Regions from separate parts of the Homo sapiens genome. Here all the other regions are linked to region 2. Evidence: fine-mapped QTL for protein levels in blood plasma. A gene starts in region 2. Each other region holds a variant in brackets. All regions are shown on one strand. Distances are from middle to middle. Region 1 has its middle 11 kb from the start of SERPINB9. Region 2 holds the start of SERPINB9 (serpin family B member 9). Region 3 overlaps MYLK4 (myosin light chain kinase family member 4).

What was found. PIP is the posterior inclusion probability: the model's chance that the variant is causal. Protein levels are from antibody-based Olink assays in UK Biobank. Linkage for the fine-mapping came from a reference panel and not from the study's own genotypes, which makes the PIPs less certain.
Region 1: its variant is fine-mapped to the plasma level of the SERPINB9 protein (UK Biobank, PIP 0.98).
Region 3: its variant is fine-mapped to the plasma level of the SERPINB9 protein (UK Biobank, PIP above 0.99).

The regions. Positions count from the first base shown.
Region 1 is chr6:2,910,465-2,918,647 of GRCh38, reverse strand. No RefSeq gene overlaps it. Among named protein-coding and RNA genes, the nearest start is that of SERPINB9, 11 kb to the right of the region's middle. RefSeq lists an enhancer at 1,724-2,266. The variant G/T (reference allele first, on the strand shown) is at 4,127.
Region 2 is chr6:2,898,754-2,906,925 of GRCh38, reverse strand. It overlaps SERPINB9 (serpin family B member 9), which reads left to right and starts at 3,617. Exons shown (of 7, transcript NM_004155.6): 1 at 3,617-3,725; 2 at 6,305-6,482. The coding sequence starts at 6,315. It overlaps SERPINB9-AS1 (SERPINB9 antisense RNA 1), which reads right to left. Exons shown (of 5, transcript NR_110841.1): 3 at 7,807-7,897; 4 at 6,870-7,010; 5 at 6,250-6,443. RefSeq lists silencers at 3,422-3,471, 3,572-3,651, 3,892-3,941 and an enhancer at 3,652-4,153.
Region 3 is chr6:2,742,320-2,750,499 of GRCh38, reverse strand. MYLK4 (myosin light chain kinase family member 4) reads left to right here. Exons shown (of 13, transcript NM_001012418.5): 2 at 1,094-1,364. The coding sequence starts at 1,206. Among named protein-coding and RNA genes, the nearest start is that of MYLK4, 4.5 kb to the left of the region's middle. The variant G/A (reference allele first, on the strand shown) is at 1,745.

The DNA of each region.
Region 1 (8,183 bases), 12 kb before region 2:
CTGCCTTGGTCTCCCAAAGTTTGGGGATTACAGGTGTGACCCACTGCCCTGGGCCCTGCATCCTGTTTTATCAGCGGGTCTTGGTGGCATGTATCTTGTGCTGGCCTTCTGAGAAGGCCTAAATTCCTGGGAATGCAGCCCTGTAGGTCCCAGCCTCATTTTACCCATCCCCTGTTCAAGATGGAGTTGCTCTGGTTTCAACTCCTGTGACACTACCTATATTTATATTTGAATATCCTGGGCTGTCTTTGCTTACAGGGGCGGTTGGGATGTCCCACGTGCCTCCAGTGGAACACCCCCACTCCCACTGGGCTTCCTTGGGTATAAATGTTGCTGGAGCCTCTCAGAGCAGTTCTCACCTCTGCCCGCCCCCTGACCTGTGCTAGTCATGGCAGCAGCTCATGTCCTAATTCTCCAGCTGCATCCTGGCAGCTGCAGTTCTATGGCCGTGGACTGCCGACAGGCGCCCTAGCTTTTCCACATCAGACGGCCATCCATATGGTTTCCCTAAAACTCCAAAGTAATTGCATCCTACATTTGTTTAAAAGCACTCATGACTCTCCAGACGGCAGATAGAGTTCAGATGCCTGAAACCGGCTGCCCTGCCAAGAGGGTTCCTGGGAAGTTTGGGGCTTCCCGAGGGTCTCGCCACTGCCCCTCTGACAGGAAACAGCAGACCCTGGCTCCCCCAAAGCTGGCTCTTCCTGCTATGGGTGAACATGTGGCTGACCCGCAACAGCAAATTCCTGTATGTGCCCTCCCCTCTGGCGTGAGTTCCAGATCATTTTCTTTCCCCACAAAAATGGAAGGGAAGGTCTGCATCGGTGCTCTTGGAATAAACTCATCAGCAGGAGCGTGTGTGGGGAGAGAGGAGTGCAGCCACCTTGCTTTTTTATGTGTAAAAAGGAAACTAGTTTGATGCCAATGTATGTATTTATTTGTTTTTTAGAGAAGGGGGTCTCATTATACTGCTCAGACTGGATTTGAACTCCTGGACTCAAGTGCTCTTCCTGCCTCAGTCTCCAGAGTAGCTGGGACTACAGGCTCACCCTACTGCACCCAGGCTGGAATTTCAATGTCAAGTTCAATGGCTGGAAATCAAACTTTTCCTATAGCAGTATATTTATGGTGCCATAGTGTTGTGGCGTGGGCACCCACCAGTATTGTTTTGTATGCTGTTGGAATGAATGCCTTCTAGATTTACTGGGAGAGGTCCATCCATGTCCAAAGTTCCAACTCTCTTACAATCTTTAATGTGCAAATGGGAGTGGAGTACCAAGAAGAACCTGAGGGGGCGGAGAAGAGAGTCGCCCTGTTGTCTCCTTCCAGCGTCAGCCTAACCATCAGTGTGAGCTGGGACACACCCCCAAGGCACACTTGTGTGTGAGTGTGTGCATGTGTGTGTGTCATTGCTATGGGGTAGATAATGACCAGTACCTACAGGCTGGAAAGGAAAGAGGTGAGGAAGTGAGAGGGAGGAAGAGGGAAGACAGGAGAGGCCAGAAGTACGTGATTGTAAGGAATTAAGAGCAGTTTAATGGAGAGTCAACATTGATGGGTACTCCAGTTCATTCCTTTGCCTGTTCCGACAGGATGATTATACACACACACACACTCCAGCCTAGGTTTATGACTGCCTCACCTGGATGGTAAAGCTCCACTTGCAGGTAGAGTCCAATTCAAATGTTATTTGGGTCTCTGTCATCTCTGTTTTCTCATCCTCATTGAGTCTCTTTTGCTAATGCCATCCCTGGTGGGCCAGTGCCCTCAGTGTGAGTATTTCTTCTGGCTTCCTAGCCTTTTATTTCCTTCAAGAGTAAGGTGAGATTGAGCATGGCAGAAGCAGCCTGGACACAGACCAGACCCTGCTGTGCTGGAGACACTACAGACACCAACCTTCTAGCAGCTGCTGCCCTGGAAGGCTCCCCAGAGGCTTGATTATTTGAGGACAATGGATGAACTTTCACATTTTGTTCTAGAATCATGACCTATTATGTGTAGGGTACTGTTGTGCAAATATCACTAGATGGCATTTTCTTGGCTGACATTTTCACTCATTGAAATGTAAAAGAATTTGCACTGATTGGCCTGTTTGTTGTTCTGTATGTAAAAATGGCCTTCACGCCTTTTTTAAGTGTGAGGCACTCCCTTTTAAAAAATATTTTAGCAGAAAGCTAAAACAAAACATCTGACAGTGGAGGTGCACTCTTTGAAATAATTGTCTCCCATCTCCCGCCTCATCCACTCAGCTCCTTTTCCTTCCCATCGTGCCCCTGAGAGACTCAGAAGACCCCTGCTAAGGCTTAAGGGAGTATAGCCTCACAACTGCAGGGTGAGGCACTGCAGTCCACTGGTGATGTGGAAGAAGCAAGATCAGGGGATGATACCCTGTTTATAAAAGTCAGCACATGCATGATGATCCTTATCTCTGCATAGAGTTTTCTGTAATTCTTGCTTTGCATATTTTCTAATTTTCCAAATGGAAACATACATTTCTTATGTGGCTTTAAAAAATGTGAGCAAAATATACATGCATATGATAAAAGAGAGGATAACATAATATAGAAAAATAGCTTGCAGGGTTATTGGATTGTGGATGATTTGTCTCTTCATTTCCTAAAATGTCCTCAATAGTAACAGCAAAGAGACTTTGGGAAACAGAGGCACATGGATGAACTTTAATATTTTATTGAATAGTGACCCAGCCAAAGAGAATCCTACTCTACTATTATTAGGTAAGGCTTAATAGAAAGATATAATTAGGCCAGGTGTGGTGGCTCACGCCTGTAATCCTAGCACTTTGGGAGGTCAAGGCAGGTGGATCACTTGAGGTCAGGAGTTCGAGACCAGCCTGGGCATCATGGCGAAACCCCACCTCTACCAAAAATACAAAAATTAGCTGGGTGTGGTGGTGCAGGTCTGTGGTCCCAGCTACTCGGGAGGCTGAGGCAGGAGAATTGCTTGAACTTGGAAGGCAGAGGTTGCAGTGAGCCGAGATCGTGCCACTGCAGTCCAGTCTAGGTGACAGAGCAAGCCTTTGTCTAGGAAAAAAAGAAATAATTAATGTTGGACTTATAAAAATTTGCTAAAATTATAATAACTGATAGTAACCTGTAGTAACTTTTGATTTAGTAATAAAGTTTCTCTCAGGCACATCTTTTCCTTCTACCTTCCAGGGTGCACATGGGTGATCCAGCCACTCTCACATGGAAGCATACCTCCTGGACCTGCCCCAAGTGATGTGTCGACTGGCCCCAAATCAACACCTCCAACTCAAGTTTCCACGTGGGATTTGGGCTTCATATTTGATGTCTATGCCAAGGCTGCCCTGGACAGCTCCCTAGCCTAGTTTCAGCAACTCCGGGGGAAGTGGTACCTCTCTGTGGACTCTCCCAGATTTAAAGTAACTGTCTCTTCAACATAGCCCTTATTTTACATCTCAAATGGACCCTTCAGATTTGGTGAGATCTGTCCAGCTGTTTCACATGACATGGTGACAGAAATGTAGTTTTTAGTTTTATTTTTTAGAAATGTAGCTTTGGCCCGGCACGGTGGCTCACACCTGTAATCCCAGCACTTTGGGAGGCCGAGGCAGGTGGATCACCTGAGGTCAGGAGTCCAAAACCAGCCCGAACAAGATGTTGAAACCCCATCTCTACTAAAGATACAAAAATTAGCCGGGCCTGGTGGTGCATGCCTGTAATCACAGCTACTTGGGAGGCTGAGGCAGGAGAATCACTTGAGCCCGGGAGGCAGAGGTTGCAGTGAGCTGAGATTGCGCCACTGCACTCCAGCCTGGGTGACAGAGTGAGGCTGTCTCAAAAAAAAAAAAAAAAAATGTAGTTTTTATTTACAGAGAATTACATTCTTTATTCACAGAACAGTGGTTACAAATTATATTAGTGACACCAAATTGGGAAGGAGCTAGCAGCAATCGGGATTTTATGGAATGATCAAGGATGCAGGCTGTGGAATCAAATCACAGTTTCCAACCCTGACTTCATTGACACCAACCACCTAGGAGATCGGGAACAAACTCAGTCTCCTCATCTTGGTGGGTACTTACTGCAGGGCCTCGGTGTGTGATAGTGAGGGTTAGCTGAGAGGCACATAAAGAACTTAGGGC[G/T]GTGCCTGTTTGCACTAGGGGCGGGTACAGCCAGCTGGTCTCTGAGGGTGCCTGTGAGCCCTGCAGCAGTCCTGTTGCTGAGGCCCCATATTGGCTACTCTGTGACTAAGCCAGTGTATTCGTTTCCTATTGCTGCCATCACAAATTACCTCAAACCTCAAATGGCTGAAAACAACCGAGCTTTACACCGTACAGCTCTGAAGTCAGAACTCCAAAACGGGTCAGCTGGGTTGATTCCTCCCAAGGCTCCGGGGAGAATCTGCTTCCTGGCCTTTTCCAGCTCCTAGAGGCCGCCTGTGTTCCATGGCTTGTGGCTCCGCATCACCCTGACCTCTGCCTCTGTCCTCACGTCTCCTCTGGCTGTGGCCCTCCTCCCTCTCTCATGAGGACCTGTGATCACACTGAGCCCACCCAGATGATCTATAAGAATGATTTGTGATCCTAATGTCTAAAAATGGAGTGGCTTGTGTTATGTGTGTAAACCAAAAATAAAATTCTAAGCCCTCAGTCCTCTATATGGACCCGTCCTCTCGGTAAAGGCCCAAAGCTAACTTGCAAACTAGTTCAGGCCATGATGGGAAGGGGAGCCGGACATGCCTCATTATGCAGTCTTCCGTTTTGGAATTACTGATAGAGCAGACTCTTTAAGTCTGATAAGAAACATTTACGGTTTATTATGTCTCACACCTGCTACCTGGAGGCTTCACCTGCATGATAAAAGCTTGGTGTCCACAACCCCTTATCATCATCCAGACATTCCTTTCTATTGATTCAGAAAACCTCTGGGTTTGCCTATGACCTGGAAGCCCCTGCTTCCAGTTGTCCTGCCTTTCCAAACCAAAGTACATCTTACACGTATTGATTGATGTCTCATGTCTCCCTAAAATGTATAAAACCAAGCTGTGTCCTGACCTTGGGCACCTGTTCTCAGGACCTCCTGAGGCCGTGTCATCGGCATGCCCTTAACCTTGGCAAAATAAACCTCTAAATTGATCCAGACTTGCCTCAGATACTTTTTGGTTTTCAAGTGGCATGAAGCCCACAGTGAAGTTGTTTACTCCTTAAAGTGGTAAGCGTATGTGTACTAGACTGAGCCTGAGCTCATAGTAAAGTTGTTTTTCTTTAAGGCGATAAACATATGTATAAGAGATGAGATTACATTTGCTGTGGCATGTACCACTTGAGACCCAAAAGGAACCGATAGAAAATGGAGCCAAAAGGTGGCTGAGATGATGATGACGGACACACCTGGGGAAAACCATAAAACCAGCAAGGAACTGACACTGTCAGAGGCACCTTGAGAATTCCTGCCTGTAGGAGACATCACACTCTGGGGACTGTTGTGGGGTGGGGGGAGGGGGGAGGGATAGCATTAGGAGATATACTTAATGTTAAATGACGAGTTACTGGGTGCAGCACACCAACATGGCACATGTATACATATGTAACTAACCTGCATGTTGTGCACATGTACCCTAAAACTTATAATAGAAAAAAAAAAGTGCCTCCTCCCGGTGAGACGGGCTGCCCAGAGGCTCTGTGTGAGAGGAGTGTCTGCTGTGCTGGCCTCCTCAGCCACAGCCTGGGTTTGCCATTCCGCTCATTACTGCCTTTAGTAATTGTATCATGTCATTCCCATCACTCACAGGAAAAGAAACAATGAAAAAAATAATTGTATTGTGAATGTTTGCTCGATTGATTGGGTATGTGTGAGTCTCTGGCAATAAACCATATTTAAGCATTGCAAATTGGCTACCGGGTCATTGGGAAACCTGGCTTTGATCTGAGCACACAGGCCAGAAGAACCTGATTACAATAACATTTAAAATGAACATAATACCAGATAACCAGCACGTCTCCCATCTCAAGATTCTTAACTAGAGGGACCACATCGGCAAAATCTCTTTTGCCATGTAAGACAGTCACTGGTTTTGGGGATTAGGAGGTAAGACATCTTTGGCAAGGGGCATTATTCTGCTGGCTACACCCCAGTGTTCACTGACTGGGGACTGACGACTAGGTGGCCATAGAGGGCTTGGTTGATGTGCTTCTGATCCAGACCTTCCCTGGTGGATGAATTCAGGTGCAGATGGCACTTTTTTTTTTTTTTTTTTTTTTTTTTTGGAGACAGTCTCACTCTTTCACCCAGGCTGGAGTGCAGTGGTGCAATCTCGGCTCACTGCAACCTGCACCTCCTGGATTCAAGTGATTCTCCTGCCTTAGCGTCCTGAGTAGCTGGGATTACAGGTGTGTGCCACCACGCCTGGCTAATTTTTTGTATTTTTAGTAGAGACAGGATTTCACCATGTTGGCCAGGCTGGTCTCGAACTCCTGACCTCAAGTGATCCACCCGCCTCAGCCTCCCAAAGTGCTGGGATTACAGACGTGAGCCACTGCGCCCTGCCCAGATGGCACTTTTGCCAGCAGTTTATTAAGGAGGAGGGTGATGAGAGCAACTCATGAAATATGTTTTTCTTGCCCCTGAGCATCTCCTCTGCCATGGCCATGGTGCTCATAGGGACAGGTGGAAATGTACCTATCACATGGGGAGAATGATGGCATGTTTTTCTCCTGTGCTTCCACAGAGGGGCCTTTTCATACCTTCACATCAGCCGGTAAAAGCTGGGGTGGCCTGTAGGTGGCAGGAAGGACCTCATGATAGCACATGGCAGAAATGGATAGAAAGGTGAACTGTGCAGGATGGGGAATCTCCTGTAGTGTTTGTGGGAGAAATCAAGTGATGAAGTTATTTTCTCTAGACAAAAGCATCCATAAATCACAGCAAAATTGCATCTTTGATAAGGTAAAGCTACAATTCTATTCCACAAAAAGACAATTTCAATTTTTTGTTTTAAACTTTTGCTAAATGTGTTTAAAATAGAATTGCAGCTGTAAATGAACCTTCCATAAAATGGGTTATTTTTAGTGGATGATAATGAATACGTGAAAAAAGAAAAAAACACAAATGAGAATGTATATCTTCTGGAGCTTAGAGGGCAAATATATTCTGACTGCCCCAAAATGGATGATGGGAACCATATGTACAAATGAGGTAGTGGGCACTGCTTTAGGGAAGCAGTCCTTAACCTTTCTGAGTCTCAGGTTTCTTTGATGATCTGGGGAAGTGTCTCGGCGTGTTACCACCTGTGCAATGTTGTGCAAGTCACATTAGTGGTGTCTGGCTGACCTCTCGAACTGCATCCACAGACCTCAGCTGAAGATCCCCCTGCAGCTGTTTCTTCCAGCTTCTGGTGGAAGGGCCGGTGATAGAGGAACAACCTTAATTTTCACTGTGGCTTGACATTTAAATCACAGTGTTACCTGGAGAACTTCTGTAAAATTACTGGTGAAACATTTTCAGTTTTATGTCTGCTCTTTCTTGTGTTCCCTGGGGCCAGGTTAGATTTAAACCTGAAGACTCATTTTTTTTTTTTTTCTGTTCTGTTTTCCTCCTGTTATCAAGGCTTCCTAGCATGAATAAATCTGCCAGACCCATGGTTCTCACCTAGGGGGCAACTGTGCCCCGGCCTGGAGGACATTTGGCAATGTCTGGAGACATTTTTGGTTATCATCATTGAGGGGTAGGTGTGCCTGGCATGGAGGGGGTGGAGGCCAGGGATGCTGCTGAATGTCCTGCACTGCACAGGACAGCACCCAGTGCAAAGAATGATCTGGCTTCACACATCAGCAATACGTCAGTTGAGAAACCCTGCGCTAGACAATTAAAGCATTTCGTTATAGGACCCTACCTAATTTTTTGTGTAGAGATTCATTTGGAGGTCCCTCTTTAGGGGAAGTAAGAGGGCAATGTTCGAAGTTGGCATTGCTGTTTAATATTACCAGGCACTTTGTTTAAACAAAGATAACGACGTTCACCAAGACTTCCAGTCACTTCCCATTGAAGTGAATATATCTTAGAATCGCTGACAGACTTTGGAGAAAAAAACACGTTTTAGTAAGTAGTACTCAGAATCAATGAAAAGGAAAATAAAAGAGGAACTACAGAAGAGTAGAGAATACACACAATTCTGCTGCCATCACATGTACTTAGAATTGC
Region 2 (8,172 bases):
AACATTGAGCTCTGCGGATCCTCAAGTCCCTAATATAACATGGCGTAGTGTTTGCATATAACCTATGCAAATGTAACCTGTGTAACATCCTCCCATACGCTTGAAATCATCTCTAGATTATGTATAATACCTAATACAATGTAAATGCTGTACAAATAGCCGTTATACTGTATTGTTTTAAATTTTGTATTATTTTTTGATTTTTTAAAAAATTTTTCCATCTGCAGTTGGTTGAATCTGTGGATGTGGAACCTGAGGTACCGGTGGCCAAATGTACAGTGTGCTAATATAAAAATTAGTAAAGGAGGGTTAGGCTGTCCTGAGGCTCGCAGTCCGGTGTGGGAGACAGAAGATTTAGTGGAAAGTCCCTGTGGAGCTTAAGTGTTGGGCTGGGCCATTCTAGGGGTGTTCAGGGCACCTTGGAAGTACCTCAGTGTGCTCGCCGTCTCTCCCTCAGACTGCTGCCCTCTTGGGCCAGATATTGTGTCTTCAACTTGGTACCAAGTTCCCAGCAAGTGCCAAGCCAAGCCCATGGCAGGAAGCGAATTATTTTTTGTTAACTGAATGCATGAGTCTTAGAATGGAACCTGACTGTGTCACAAGCATGATAGGAACATGTTGGGGGCAGGGAAATGTTTTCAAAGTTGTGGAAACCTTTGCAGAATGAATAGGGCCACGCTCCATATTTTGCTCTTTGCAGGACTTTAAGGAAGTGTGTCAAATGCCCACAGGTAGAGCTGGAAAATGTGGCCTTTGCTAAAGATGCAGAAGAGTCTAGAGACGCACAACGGCTGGGTCATTGGTGGTGAGGGACTTTATTTGCAGTGAACTTGGAGCTAGGAAGGAAGTTACTGCTGGGTGGGTCCTCAGTGACGGAGGTCTGCTTACACGTTTGCCAGGTTTTCAGGCCAGCAACATGATTCTGTCATTTCTCTTGGGCTTGTCTGATCATGAAGTAGTGATTTTTGAAAAATCCTTGGACCTGGTGTGAGGATCAAAGACTCCCTTCCTCCGGACAGTGTTGGAAAATCCTGGAAAAATGCTTCCTCTGGGGCCCTGTGTATTTTCTATCTGGGAAAACCATGATGAGCAATCAGATAAAGAAATATTTTTGTGATATGTTGTGACTTTCTTAAAGTAATAAAGTAGAAGAGATTTTAAATGAAAAATATAGGTAATTGCAAAATCTCTTGATTCTTAGCTATTTCTGAACAGATTTCATGCCCCACCCCCCCATACAATTTTTAGTGGGGGAAAGAGGAGAAAGGAAAGGAAAAGCTAAAATAACCTTGTTTTCATAGTTCTGTGTTTTTATCCTTTCCTAAACCCATTTTCCATCGCTGGTCACATGATTTGGATTGAAAGGACGTTTCCTCTAGGCCTCGGAGCACAGAGGCAGCTAACATGTTTGCACTATGCCATCATGGTCCACGTTTACTCAGACACTTTCTTGCAATGGCACTGACAACGATGCCCCCATTTGTTGCCTTAAAATTCATGGGTATGGCCAGGCACAGTGGTTCACGCCTGTAATCCCAGCACTTTGGGAGGCTGAGGCGGGAGGATCACCTGATGTCAGGAGTTCGTGACCAGCCTGGCCAACATGGTGAAACCCCATCTCTACTAAAAATACAAAAATTAGCTGGGTATGGTGATGCATGCCTATAGTCCCAGCTACTTGGGAGGCTGAGGCAGGAGAATCGCTGGAATTGGGAGGTGGAGGTTGCAGTGAGCCAAGATCACGCCATTGTTCTCCAGCCTAGGCGATAGAGCAAGACTCCACCTCAAAAAAATAAATAAGTGGATAAATAAATAACAGCTTTTTGTTTAATCAATTGTCTCTATCATTATAAAGTTTTCTATATCATTGATTTATTCTCTAATCTTTATTATTTCTTCTTTTCTACTGATTATGTGTTCAATGTATTTATACTTTTTCTAGTTTTTGAAGGTAGAAACTGAGGTCATTGATTTGAAGCCTTTCTCCTCTCCTAATATAGGCATTTCATGCTGCAAAATTTCCCCAAAGCTGACTTAATAACATCCTACAAATTTTGATGTTTTTATTTTCATTTTTTATTAATTTCAAAATACATTCTAATTTCCCTTTTGATTTTATAATATTTTTATAAGTATTATTCAGTTATAAAAAGAAATAAAGTACTAACAAATGCTACCTGGAACCATCAAGAATGACCCTTGAAAACATTATGCTAAGTGAAAGAAGGCAGTCAGGAAAGACCACATATTGTATGATTCAATTTGCATGAAATCTTCACAGTCGGTCAATCCGCAGGGCCAGAAAAGAAATCTGGAGGTCGGAGCCTCTCCCAGAAGCCAGGGGTTGTGGGAAGGAGGAAATGGAGAATAATTGCTAATGGGTATCACAGTTCCTTTTAGGGTGATGAAAACCTTCTGGAGTTAGATAGTGGTGAGAGTTGGACAGCTTTGTCAATATACCAAGAACTATTGAATTGTATGCTTTAAAAGGATGCATATTATGGTCCGTGAATTGTCTTTTAATAAAGGTTTTATTTTTAAAAACAAGCTAGGCACCTAGGGTGTCAAATTGAAGGAGGCTCTGATTCTCAGGGCCGCGCAAATGCAGGGTTGGCACCTATGCGTGTGGCCCTCCTGAAATTTTGTGCCTTAGGCACCTGCCTTGCTTCTCCCTAATTCAGGCCCTCAGGAGAAAGCTCTAATTCTGGTCAATTTGAAACAGGAGGGCACGGCTTCTGGGCGACGCTCCGTGCTCCAGAGAGAGCCATTTGTCTGTTCCCTTCCTCTGGACGTCACCGTGCCAACATGAAATGCTTCCAATTGAGTCCAGCCTGAGATGGAAGGGGGTGGGGGGATATCTGATGACATCACGAACTGCTGCATCAACTCCCCCGAGTCCCTGCCTCTGGACCCCCTGATAGAGGACACAAGGAGTGTCCTGAGCCCGTGTGACTCAGTGTCTCTTCCCATCACTTTGCGGGAAAATGGGGCTGCTTACACCACACCGCAGCCCAAACACCTGTGGCTAGAGAAGGGCTTGGGTACTAGGAGTGAGGACGCCTGGTTCTGGGCCCAGGACTAGTACTAGTTAGTGGTGGGACCTGGAACAAATGCTTTGGTTCTAAGTGAATCCCCCATATTCATGACAAGAGGCGTGGAACACAGACCCATGGGACCTTCCCACTGGAACACGGAGCTTGGCTGTCACCCGACCTTCGCTTCCTTAAGTACAAAAGCCCAGGGTTCCAGGCTCCGTCTCCTTTCCCGCAGACGCCTTGTTTCTTCGCGCGGAGGCCCTGGACGCCGCAGGCTCCCAACCTACTTCTCTGGGCTGTCAGGTTCTGAACCCGGTCCTGAAGAGGCCCTGGCGCCGGGGGTGGGTGAGGCCGAGCGCGCGCCTTGGGAACCTGGCCGGCCTCAGGCTGGCGGGAGCATTGGCGGACATCGCCCCGGGCGGGGCGGACTGGGGGGACCCTGACCTGACCCTGCTCCCAGCTCTGACCTCGGCCACCACGCGCGGCGCCCCCGCTGGTCCCGCCAGGCTCCGCCTAAACGCAGAAAGCGTGGGAGGCGCCCGACCCTGCGGTATAAAAGCGGTGCCTGCAGAGGCCCTAGCGGGAGTCCGCGGCGAGCGCAGCAGCAGGGCCGGGTCCTGCGCCTCGGGGGTCGGCGTCCAGGCTCGGAGCGCGGCACGGAGACGGCGGCAGCGCTGGACTAGGTGGCAGGTGAGGGCGTCCCCGCGCACGGCTGGGGTAGGGGACGGGAGTGGCGAGCTTCAGGTCCACCGGCTGCCACCGAGTGATGGGACCGGAGGACAGGAGAGGTCGCTCAGCCAAGAGCCCCGGGGAGGCGGTGCCTTCTCGGTGGGGTCAGCAACGGTCTCTGGGGGGTGCCTGGGAGCGGCAGCCGGTCTCCGCCTTGGCGGCCCACAGCCACCGCGGACGCCTCCCTCCCGGATGTCTCCTCGCTGCCCTTCCCTGGCCGAAGCCCTCCCCTGCAGCCTCCTCCCCACCTGCCGGCCCTGTGTTCTCACTGCTCTTCTCTGCTCTGGGATCCGCAGGATGACGTCTGTCCTGCTTCTTCACTGTCCTTTACAGTCACCAGTCTCGGCCGGGCGCAGTGGCTCACGCCTGTAATCCCAGCACTTTGGGAGGCCAAGGCGGTCGGATCCTTGGAGATCAGGAGTTCGAGACCAGTCTGGCAAACGTGGTGAAAACCGGTCTCTACTAAAAATACAGAAATTAGCCGGGCATGGTGGCCCACGCCTGTAATAATGTCAGCTATGTGCTGAGGCAGGAAAATCACTTCAACTCGGGAGGCAGAGGTTGCAGTGAGCTGGGATTGCGCCACTGCACTCCAGCCTGGCAGACAGAGTGAGACTTCGTCTCAAAACAAAAAAAAGAAAAACACAAAAAAACCACCACCAACAACAACAAAAAAATAAAGCCACCAGTCTCGGAGTTTCAAATCTGAGCACTCTTATCCATCTTAATTCTTTCAATAATTCAGCTAAACGAATGGGGTCCTGAGAATCTGCAGAGCCAGGCTCAGCGCTCGCCTGCAGAGCCTGCGGTCTGTGGGGACCACCAGCAAGATGAGGAATCACCTTCGGGAGGAAGGGTCGTGCTGGGGAGGGTCGCGCCGGCGGGGTCAAGAGAACCTCCTCCAGGGTGGGAATCAGAGCCTCCGGGCCGCGGTGTTTGAGGGTGAGTGGAATTAATGCCGTGATGGACATGGGGCCTTCTAAGGGGGACCAACAGTGTTTGTGAAGAGTTGACTTTGGGAGGGGTTCAGGATGGCCAGAGGTGGAGGCTGTGACCTCAGTGAGTCTGGATCAAGGGAGGGGGCAGGTGGGTAAGACACCGTTTTAACAAGGTGGCTTTGAGCGGCCACCTTTGAGGGGCCTAAGGGCCCCTGGGAGATTTAGGAGGAAGGACAAGAGGATTAAGACACCGCTTTCTGAGGTGCCGTGTGGCTGTGGCGTGGGGGTGGCTGGGGGAGTGGGTTGTGTTCATTGTCCAAGGCTCTCCAGCGCTTTGCGTGGCGTTTTGGGGAGCACAGATGAGGTGTCCCGACAGTGGGGAGTGGCTCTAGGGAGACCAGAGGCTCGGGAGGGGGCCTGGGCATTAGACCAGGCACAGAATCCGAAGTGGGAAGAAATGTGGGCGTAGAGGGCAGGCCTTGGGGATGGGTGTGGGGGAGGAGGGGGAGATGGAAAGGAGTCAGGGAGGTCTCCCAGGCTCACCTGGAGGAGTCAGGGTCTCATTTCCAAGTGCACTGGGAACTGCAGCCTGGGGGTGGGGGTTCATTTGGTTTCAGGCCTGTGGCCAAGAGACCCACCCCCTCACATTCACACTTTGGTCTCCAGTGGCTTCACAGGCACCACCTCCTTGTTCTCGCCTGTTTTACTCCTCACCTTGGGCTGTTTCTTGCCTTTCCATTCTGGCGTTCTGCAGGGATCAGATCCTTCCTCTCACGCACAATCTACACTCATGGCTTTTGCTGGGAGTAATGAGTAAAGCTCCCAAATAGATGTTTCTGAGTTAGGAAGCACATTAAAAACAAAACAAAACGAAGCAAAACCACACAATTGTCCAAGTCCCACTCTGTGTTCAAGGGTCACATGATGTGCAGAAGCTGGTGATGGGCAGGAGCTCTGAATGGAGTTACTGGGATGTCAGGCCGCGTGGGCCTGGGGCAGGCTGGCTGACTGGGAGCAGCCTGGCTCCACCCCGGCTGTCCAGGACGCACTCACTTGCCTCTATGGATGACAGCTCCTTGCCTCACAGCTGTCTGTCTCTGGGTCAGATTCAGCATCTCAGTGTCTTTTGTGTATCAGCTGAATGTCAGGGAGGCCACAGGCTGGTGCCCAGTTGAAAATCTCACAAGGACTCTTTGTAAATGCATGCAAGAATAAGAACAGCATTTTCCTCCTCCTCCCTGACCCCATTCTCCTCCTCAGATGGGACGATCTGGTCCTTACGGAAAGAATTGGAGTTCACTGCTTCCAGCTCTGTGTGTGTGTGTGTGTGTGTGTGTGAGAGAGCGAGCTCTGCAGGCGAGCCAGTTCTGTTGCTATTGCTGGTTTGAGCTGCTGCCATCACCACACTTAGCTAATTACCTTAACATTTGCACTTAATTTTTGGCCGGAGACTAACAGAAAATAAATTTTTCTCCAATTTAAAATACTTACGAACTTTAAGAAGAAAACAAAAAGTACGATTCCAAAATTGCCCTGTAGTAAGTAGGTCAGTAACATTCAGGGAGTGTGGAAACTGCATTTCTCTTTATTCTTCCCTTCCAGGCCCTGCATCATGGAAACTCTTTCTAATGCAAGTGGTACTTTTGCCATACGCCTTTTAAAGATACTGTGTCAAGATAACCCTTCGCACAACGTGTTCTGTTCTCCTGTGAGCATCTCCTCTGCCCTGGCCATGGTTCTCCTAGGGGCAAAGGGAAACACCGCAACCCAGATGGCCCAGGTAAGCTTGCCCGTCCGCCAGGAGCAGGGACTGGCCTGGGCTGCGTGTTCTGTCACCAGCTTCACACTCACACTCCAGAGCCACTGAGAAAGGAGGGCAGGACTGGGGCCCGAGTGTGCACTGGCCGTTTCAGGGAGGCGGGGTCCACTGGGGAAGAAGTGGGGCAGGGCAGGGAGGCAGGAACTCTGCTCCACCGAGATTTATTTGGGGGAAACTTTCCTCGGTTAATCCCTTGGAAAAGACCATCCAAGCTGTCTTGTCCTAGCGCAGAATCTTTCTTTAGAAAATGACACTGAAATTATTTGAAACATAAGTTGCAAAGAACTACCTCTTTTTTGGAGCAAGAGACTTTGTAACTAAACTTTCATTGGTAAGGAAGGTTAATACCTGTTTCAAGTTGTTTCTGTACCAACAGCTCAGGGAGGGCATCAACAGAAATTTGCAAGAAGGATTCCAGGGCAAGTGCTTCATTACAGCTGCACACTGTGCAGGTACTGCTCAGCTCAGTCTCACCAACATTCAGAGAACCTGTGGAAATGATTCAAGATCAGTGCTTGTCCCCAGACCTTTGTGGAAAGGAGAGGAGACATACACGTGAGATGAAACCGAAAAGCGCCATCCCTGAGTGCAGGCCGCTGGACACGCCTTCATCATGGGAGTTGTCCTTTGTTCAATATGACTGTCTTTTTCTTTGATGACGCTTTTCAATAGTGAATTACTCATTTTAATAATTTCCCAGCTCATTGTGTGAAGAAGGGAGGGTTTATGTGTAAAGGCTACCAGCCTTAATAATAAGCACAGAGAGGCTCTCTAAAAGATATATATATTTGGAAATAGGGCATTGCAATGAAAATACGCATGCCATGGCAAGCTATGTGCACATTCAGGGAGGTGAAATAACACTAAGATTTTTAAAGGAAAAAGTAAAGAGGATTACATAATTCCTTTGAAATAATTATTTTTGGCAAAAAGATCAATAACGAAGGTGATGTCAGTGTGAGGTTGGATGGGGAGTTCCTGGGTAGATGTCCTTGCACAAGTATTTTGTTGTGTAAGGCTGTGATGGCCTTTGTGCAAGAGCGTAGGTTTTTAGAGTCCTTTGTGATAGTTGTGTTATCAGGCATTCAAGCGTGAGAACCCTCTCTTCATGGCCTTCCCTGTCTGTTTGTCAAAGGTTTTTGGTTTTGTTTTTTTAATATTAGTGACTCCATTTTGATTCTGAAGTTCCTTATGCTGAAATCTGTATGATCTTTTTCTATGTTTTAGGCTCACTGATAAACCCTTATAGAAAGCTTTTTTGAGAGCACCAAAATTGTCTGGGTACCTTCTTAGGTGTGAGACTGAGCTCTCTCCATGGCTCCAGTGTTCAACTGGATGCTTGTGAGACACCAAACATACTGAGTACACGTTGCTACCTGTAACATGCAGGGAAGCGTTAATGGCAGCAGAAATATTTTAAAGAATTATTTATTTTTCCTTCATTATATAACTGGTAAAAGTCCACTATAAAAATTTTTAAAAAATAAAAGTAGAAGGGAGGAAAAAATCCCTATGAATCCATCAAACAGAGACAACCACCCTTGATAATGTAAAGCATCTTCCTCCAGTCCTATTTCTTTTTTTTTTTTTCGAGACAGAGTCTTGCTCTGTCGCCCAGGCTGGAGTGCAGTGGTGCGATCTCAGCTTACTG
Region 3 (8,180 bases), 160 kb after region 2:
AGAAATAGCCATGCATTTGTTTCCTTATTTTAATAATTTTTTCAGGGCAATTTGAAAGAATGCTAAGAATGATCTGTAATATATCTGTAGAGCTCTGGTTGATAGTATTAATATTTGCATTTTTATTTGTTTGAATGTAAGCTCTTTATGTGGATAAGTATAATTTGTTAGAGCAGTGAATTTTAAACACTTTGGAACTCAAGAGTATCATTTTACTATAGGAACTGACAAAACAAAATATTAAGTTTTCTGATGAGAATCACAATACGGTTTTTAAGCGGAGAAAATGCTCGAAGAGGCGCTTTTCGGAAAATCTCCACCAGGGGGCCTCAGTTGTCAGCCATGCGGAACTAGCACAAATTCAAATGTCTCTCCCTCTCCCTGCCTCTCTATGCAATCAAGTGATGTGTACATATAGACATGCGTATATGTCTCTAGTATCAAAGCGAATTATGTATGCTGCATTACTTCATTTGCGAGGAAAGTATTTTAAGGAGAGTGAAAAGACTCTGAACTTCTCGGTACATAGCTGTTAATGCAGATGCAAGGAAAGGTATCTGGGAGTGCTGTCCACGTGAGAAGACTGTAAGGAAATAAATTTCTTTTCACAAATAAACACCACACATTTTAAGGCATAGGTAGAGAAGAGTTCTGGAAAAGGACTCATTCGGGAGCGATCCCTCTGCAGAGGGAGGCCAGGGGAAGCAGAGAGACCCCTTCTGTGATAAGCCCTTCCCACGGGGCTGCAAAACCTGCGGTTCCAATTAAACCCAAAGATACTTTATAATTTACATCCAAGCTGGCCACTTGATCTACGGCTTGTTTTGTGCAATAAGGAGCATATTTCATCACCAGTGAATCTTGACATTGCTTCTTACTGTTTGCTTTTGTAGTTTTAAAGTGAAAAAATTTTTTTTCCTTTTAAAGTTCCAATGTTGGAAACTCAATATGAATGTTAGTATTTCTTTTCCTGATTTTGGATCCTCTCTCCAGTTTAAACAGAAGGGACTTCCAAATTCTCACTGGTCATTTTCTCAAGAAGTCAAATGCATGAATACGTGATGAGAACTTTTTGTGTTTCCTTTCTTTGCAGTCAAGAGAAAGAAGCACTGAAGAGTCATAATTGTGTCCTGATTTATAAATCGGAGACAGAGGGAGACGAAAACCACACTCCAGAAAGTAGCTTAATCGGACTCACTACTAAGATGTTAAAAGTGAAGAGGCTGGAAGAATTCAACACGTGTTATAACAGCAACCAGCTGGAGAAAATGGCCTTTTTTCAGTGCAGGGAAGAGGTGGAGAAAGTGAAGTGTTTTCTGGAAAAAAATTCTGGGGACCAGGATTCAAGATCTGGACATAATGAGGTAATCATGTTCTAATTTAGTCTCCTAAAAAGTATTCATTCTATCTTATCTTTTCTAATGTCATGGAGCCGCTTGTGAGTACAATTAAGGAAAGTTTATGAATAGGCATCATTCCACTTTGCTTCAGTGAGAATTGTGTGTGTCGACTATACAATTGTGTTTGGTAAATAATTAGGAGGCCTTTGAAACTGCATTTCTGCCAGCAGTCGACTTCACTTTTAGTTAGTGGCTTAGGAGTTATACAGCCAGCTTGCAGAAATGAAGAAGAATCCTTTAGCATGATGGATTTGGGCTTGAAATTCAGAAAAGGGCTCTGAGAGGCACACTGTTCTGCAGAAAGAAGTTTCTCCTTTTTCCTTCAGATCTTGAGTTCCTCACGC[G/A]GTAGACAGCAGAGCTGTTGATAGTGAAGTCCAGAGAAGGGACAAGAAAGACTTGCTGATGGCACGACGGTGGGGCTTGTACCCTCCTCTGTGCAGAACGAGAGTTCTGAGCCCCATTCCAGCTGCTCGTTCTTGGGAAAAATATTAATTTAACCAAGGGCTTGCCACATCTGAATTAGTGAGATAATAGCAATTGTGAAAATTAAGTGTGATCACGTCTGTAAAGCACTCCGCCTAGTATCTGTCACTAGAGTCAGCATTTAATATGTGTTAGCGGCAGCAGCAATTACCTCCCCTGCCTTGGCCCAGTCAGTTCCTGCCCATCATCCGTTGGCTCCTTGCCCGGTGGGAGCATCAAGCATTTTGCCCGTGCCTTCATTCCAGCACATGTGGTGGTTTTGAACATGTTGATCACCTTTCTCTAGACAAGGCTCCTTAAGGTTGGGAAACCTCGTGTTATTTGTTCATGTTTCCTCAGTTGCTTTCCTAGTAACGGAAACAAATAGGCACCAAAAGTGTTTTTGGAATGCACAGATCTATTTAAGTGAATTCTGGTTGAGGGCTGGGAACCATTATTTTTGATAATCAGAGCAAGTGATTCTTATCAGGCAGGTTTGGAAAACATCCTTCTTTGCCCAGCTACTGTTCTAAAAAACACTATTCAGGTAGGAAGGGCGTTTCTAACAATGCAATAGACAATGAAATAGAGAGATTGTATATAAAAGGTCTAGGAGGCTTTTTATTGTAAGTGAATAAGAAATGACAAAATGTGCTGGAGAGAATAAATGAATCAGATTGAAACATTTTTTTGAGACCTCTGCTTTCCCCATGAGTTCAATATAGACCAAGGAGAAATATCTACAGGCAAAATTAAGTGAGACATGACTTTCTCATTAGGGTTTTCAGTGGTACAAACAGGATAATTTTTTCTGTTTATTAATTTCGGTAGGACAGAGAAGACAAAATATTCTTCTTGGAGAACTTTGAAATCATCAACTAACTGTAATAGTTTATATGAATTTCATTATCTTTCAAGTACTGTTTTTCTCCAAAATCTATGATACAATTTTTATAAATGGGCAACACTCTAAAGAGTGAGATAAGCAGGACACATGGCTCATACCTGTAATCCCAGCACTTTGGGAGGCTGGGGCAAGAGAATCACTGGAGGCCAGGAGTTTGAGACCAGCCCAGGTGACATGGTGAGATGTCTATTTCTACAAAAATAAAAAAATACAAATAAAATAGCGGGCATGGTGGCACACATCTGTAGTCCCAGCTACTTGGGAGGCTGAGGCAGGAGGATTGCTTGAGCCCGGGAGTTCAAGGATGCAGTGAGCTATGATCACACCACTGCACTCCAGCGTGGGCAACAGAGGAAGACCCTGTTTCTGAAGATAAAAAAAAAGAGTGCGATAGTGCTAAGTTGGAACATAAATATATGTAGGGATGTTACTTTTGTGCAGCCAACTACATCCAGAAGTTGATGATTTGGAAGTTAAATATTTTTAGGGTGTTTTTGAGGGAAAAATTGAGACTGCTATTTAACCCCTAGAAACCATCAGAGAATGTCCTTTATAGTAAGTCTCATATCCCTTCTGTAACTTGGGCCTCCTGGCTTCCGTCCTGCAGTTGACACCCTGTGGAAGGTGGGAAGGAATCACTAGGAGCTCCATGTGTCCCATTCAATTTCTTACTTGTAAATGGAGAAGGGCCTAGAGATGTCTGCAATAAATTTCCCTGTCTCTCTCCGTCCACGTGGAGAATGGATAGGTGCATGTGTCAGAGGCACAGAGTTCTCCTTTCCATGGCCTGGAGCCCCTGCCTGCCTAGTTGGTGGGTGCCAGGGCAGCCAGCAGGCTTGGCAGCGGGTGGGTGGAGAAGGACATTCCAGCAGCTCAGATGTCTTCAGGTATGCAGACAGAGCTAGATTAACACGTCTTCATCTTCTGCTGGGGCAGCAGTAAATCTTTAAAATGCCACGCTTTTCTCTCCAGGGACTATAAAAACATGCTTGTCGATTTTCTCCACCTATTCCCCTTTCTCTCTCATCCCTTCTCTCTTTGAGGGGATTAGCACGGCTAATCATAGTAGAAACATCCCCTGTGGTGCACTGGAAAGAATGTACTCTGAATTTCAGACTCTGGTGACATGAAAGCTTTGTTCTGGAAGCTTGCAGTGCAGTTTCTTTAGAGTCTGGAACTACTCTCCAGTCCCAATAGGGGAAGAATTTTATATAGATTTAACAACTTATATTTGTTAAAATAGTTTGATAAAACTCAGATTCTTTTTGTTTTCCTGCTCTTAATCAGATTTTTCTATTTCTTTTATTTTTCTTCTACTGAATTCATTTTTAGCCATCTTCCTTCTTTCCTCTATGTTTTACTGAGTTTATGAAACACTTCATAGCCTTCTTTTCTTCCTTCTACTTAAGTAGTTCTTGTTCTTTTAATTTTTCTTTCTTTCTTTTTTTCTTTTTTTCTTTTTTTGAGACGGAGTCTTGCTCTGTCACCCAGGCTGGAGTGCAGTGGTGCGATCTCAGCTCACTGCAACCTCCGTCTCCCAGGTTGAAGCAATTCTCCTGCCTTAGCCTCCTGAGTAGCCGGGATTACAGGCGCACGCAACCACGCCTGACTCATTTTTTTTTATATTTTTTTTTGTATTTTTAGTAGAGACGGGGTTTCACCACATTGGTCAGGCTGGTCTCAAACTCCTGACCTCATGATCCACCTGCCTTGGCCTCCCAAAGTGCTGAGATTACAGGCGTGAGCCACCGTGCCCGGCCTTGTTCTTTTAATTTTTCTTGTTTGTTTGTTTCTTTTTTTTTTTTTGAGACAGCTTCTCACTCTGTCGCCCAGGCTGGATTGCAGTGGTGTGATCTCAGCTCACTGCAGCTTTGACCTCCCTGGCTCAAGTGATTCTCCTGCCTCAGCCTCCCAAGTAGCTGGGACTAGGCATGCACCACCACCCATGGCTACTTTCTGTATTTTTTTGTAGAGACAGGGGTCTCCATGTGTTGCTCAGACTGGTCTTGAACTCCTGTGCTGAAGTGATCCTCCCACCTTGGCCTCCCAGAGTGCTGGAATTACAGGCATGAGCTGCTGTGTGTGGCCTATTTTTCCTACTTTCCTTTTTATTCTGTTTTCTAATGACTTTTCTTATTCTATTATGTTCCAAAGGCTGTTCAAAATCACCTAAATTCTACCTACTGTGTAAAATTTTAAAAGTTTTCAGCAGATAACCATATGCCATAATAAACTAGATCTAAACATACGTACACGGTGTGGTGTTGAAATCAAGTAAAATTTACAAGACCAAATTGGTCTGACTCATATGAGTGATGAGCTCGATAGCTACTGTGTCCATACCATTAAGTTATAAATGATGAACAGGTTTCATAACTATAATTAGTATTATTTTTGTACAGTTGAATCTGGGTTTTTTTTCTTTTGTCAGTTCTCTGTTATCTATATAGTAAATAGCCCTCGTGTTGTATTTCCCCCAGATTTACTTGAATATTTAGTAGGATCTCTGTCTCATATACACCCCCACACCCCTTTGCTTAATGAAACACAAATGTGCCTGGTGATATTCTCAGCCAACCATTCGGCCCTGCGTGCTTCTCACTGCTTTCCTCGGTGTACCACCCCCATCCCTGCTCCTGAGGCCCGGGGTTGTCTGTGCTCTCCTCCTCCTCCGTTGGTTTTCCCCACCTGCCTGTTCACCCCTAGTTACTCATCCTCCATCCAAAAGGCATGGTCCCAAGTATAAAAGTAGGACACAGGTTGTGAATGCTCACTCTACAAAAATATGTCAGCATAGCCCACCGTTCCACATCCGCGCCTGGAAGACCCCTAAGCAAATCATTTCTGAATTTATCCTAACCCTTGTTGATTTGTGTTTGAAAGCCTTCCTTCATAGGGAATAATTCCTTTTTAAAACCTGGCTTAAGTTCTTCCATATCCCAACCAGGGGGTATCCCAAAGCTGTGGGGGTAGAAACAAGCATGGCCCCAGCAGACTCGGGACCCCACTGTCCCTGGAGTGTTTAAATGCCCGGTACAAATGCTCCCAAGACCAAGCAAAGCAAAATATTTATTAACAGGATGTGCAGAGGGACAGTGGGTTGGAGTAAAGTGTGGATTTTCCTATTTTGATTGCAGTTGGTGGATTTAACACCAGGTGGCATTTCCTGACCATCTGCTGTGAAATTGTACCATCAGCACCATCCGTAATGACTATAACTTAGATCTCAAAATAACAAGGCTGAGGGCAGAGGTTTTGTGATTTTTCAAGTTGCATTTCGCCACCTCCATCCCTGTGCTCCTCACCCTGTAAGGGCAGGAGAAAGCTCCCTGGCAGTGGCCCAGCCTCGGCAGCCAGCAGTTGCCAGATACAGTGGTGCTAATTGTCCTTGAACTGGGAACAAATACGCATTCACAGCGTCGTAAATTATTGCCAGCAGTCTCCCAATGCCCCTACACCTGTTTCAGATCTGTCACACAAGGCCATCGTATTTTTCCTTTTAAAGAGGCAGATTATTTGCTGATCACGTAACTGGAGACGTCCAGTGCAGGACTCTGCAAGAACCCTCTGTAATTCGGTGACACCCACTCCTCAGGGCAGAGCAAAGGGTGACACTGCTTGAGAAGTGCTGGTGCTAGATCAGGGCAGGGAAGGAACATATAAGCCAAGCAACATCCACAGCTGCTCCCAAAGAATGGACTTCACACTCAGAAGAAAAGACGTCTGGGTTGTAGGTAGCGTGTGCCTTCTCTCGTCTTCAGTTCTCTGGTGCTTGATCCGGTTCGTGATGACCCGGGGAGGCCACTGGCAGACTCCTGCTCTTGAGGACGTGCAGGTAGTAAAATCACCTTTATCTAAGACAGATTCATTTTGTTCGAATGTTTCCAACCTGGGAGTGACGCTTGCCAAAGTAAATGGAATGCATGCCCTGGCTGAATCTTTGCCCAGGGCCCTGGTCTTAGGGGCAGTTGAGGTAATAATAGTGGCATGTGGCACATTTCAAACACTTGCACCAACTTTTGGGGAACCTCACGGGCAGGGATTCCCTGTGCATATTAAAGTTAGTGATCTGTTTTTGTTTGTGAGAGCTAAAAATAATGTCCGTATCTCTTCCTTCTCCTACTTCTTATATGACTTATGAAAAGAAAATAAAACAGAAGCAAAAGTGCTTCTACTCTTACTAAGAAATCGATTGCAAACACAGCACCTGCAGTGATCAGCCCTTCTGAGCATAGCCTTCTCTGCTTTCTCCTTTGAGCTGTCGCCTGATAATGCATTTCATGTAACACCATAGCTATTCCAGGAATGGAATTCAGTCAGAAGCGTAGCAGAATTCTGGAAGAAGACAAATAATTCCTATTCTAAGAATTTTAGCACTTTTCAAGAGAGGGTATTCATTTTGGGGAAGACAGCTCTTTGCACATATTTGACTCTCTTATCAATTAGCATATGATAAATTATTTTTAAAACAATATACAACAGTTTAGAAAGCACTATGGAAAACAGTCTGAATCATTGTTCCTGTCTGAAGGTGGGTTTATGGCGGTGTTTCTCAGCCTTGTTTTCATTATCATCCACCCCCTCCTAGACTTTTTAGGGTTTTTTCCCCTTAGTTGACTCCTCCCATTAAATTTTAATACCACATGTATACTGCATAGCTGTTGATGCATTGTTTGTACCTCTGTGCTTTATACGTAAAAAGAGTAAGATTTTCTTCACATGCCCCCAGAAGAACCAATTTTCATTCCTTTGGGGTGCTATTGCCCCATTGACAATGCATGCAGTTAAAAAAATTTCTCTAGGGGAGTTAGACAATCTATCCCTACACCTGTGTATAAATGCCTTATTTATTTATTTTTATTATTATACTTTAAGTTTTAGGGTACATGTGCACAATGTGCAGGTTTGTTACATATGTATACATGTGCCATGCTGGTGTGCTGCACCCATTAACTCGTCATTTAGCATTAGGTATATCTCCTAATGCTATCCCTCCCCCCTCCCCCCACCCCACAACAGTCCCCAGAGTGTGATGTTCCCCTTCCTGTGTCCACGTGTTCTCATTGTTCAATTCCCATCTATGAGTGAGAACATGCGGTGTTCGGTTTTTTGTCCTTGCGATAGTTTACTGAGAATGATGATTTCCAATTTCATCCATGTCCCTACAAAGGACATGAACTCATCATTTTTTATGGCTGCATAGTATTCCATGGTGTATATGTGCCACATTTTCTTAATCCAGTCTATCATTGTTGGACATTTGGGTTGGTTCCAAGTCTTTGCTATTGTGAATAGTGCCACAGTAAACATACGTGTGCATGTGTCTTTATAGCAGCATGATTTATAATCCTTTGGGTATATACCCAGTAATGGGATGGCTGGGTCAAATGCCTTATTTATTCTTATTCAAC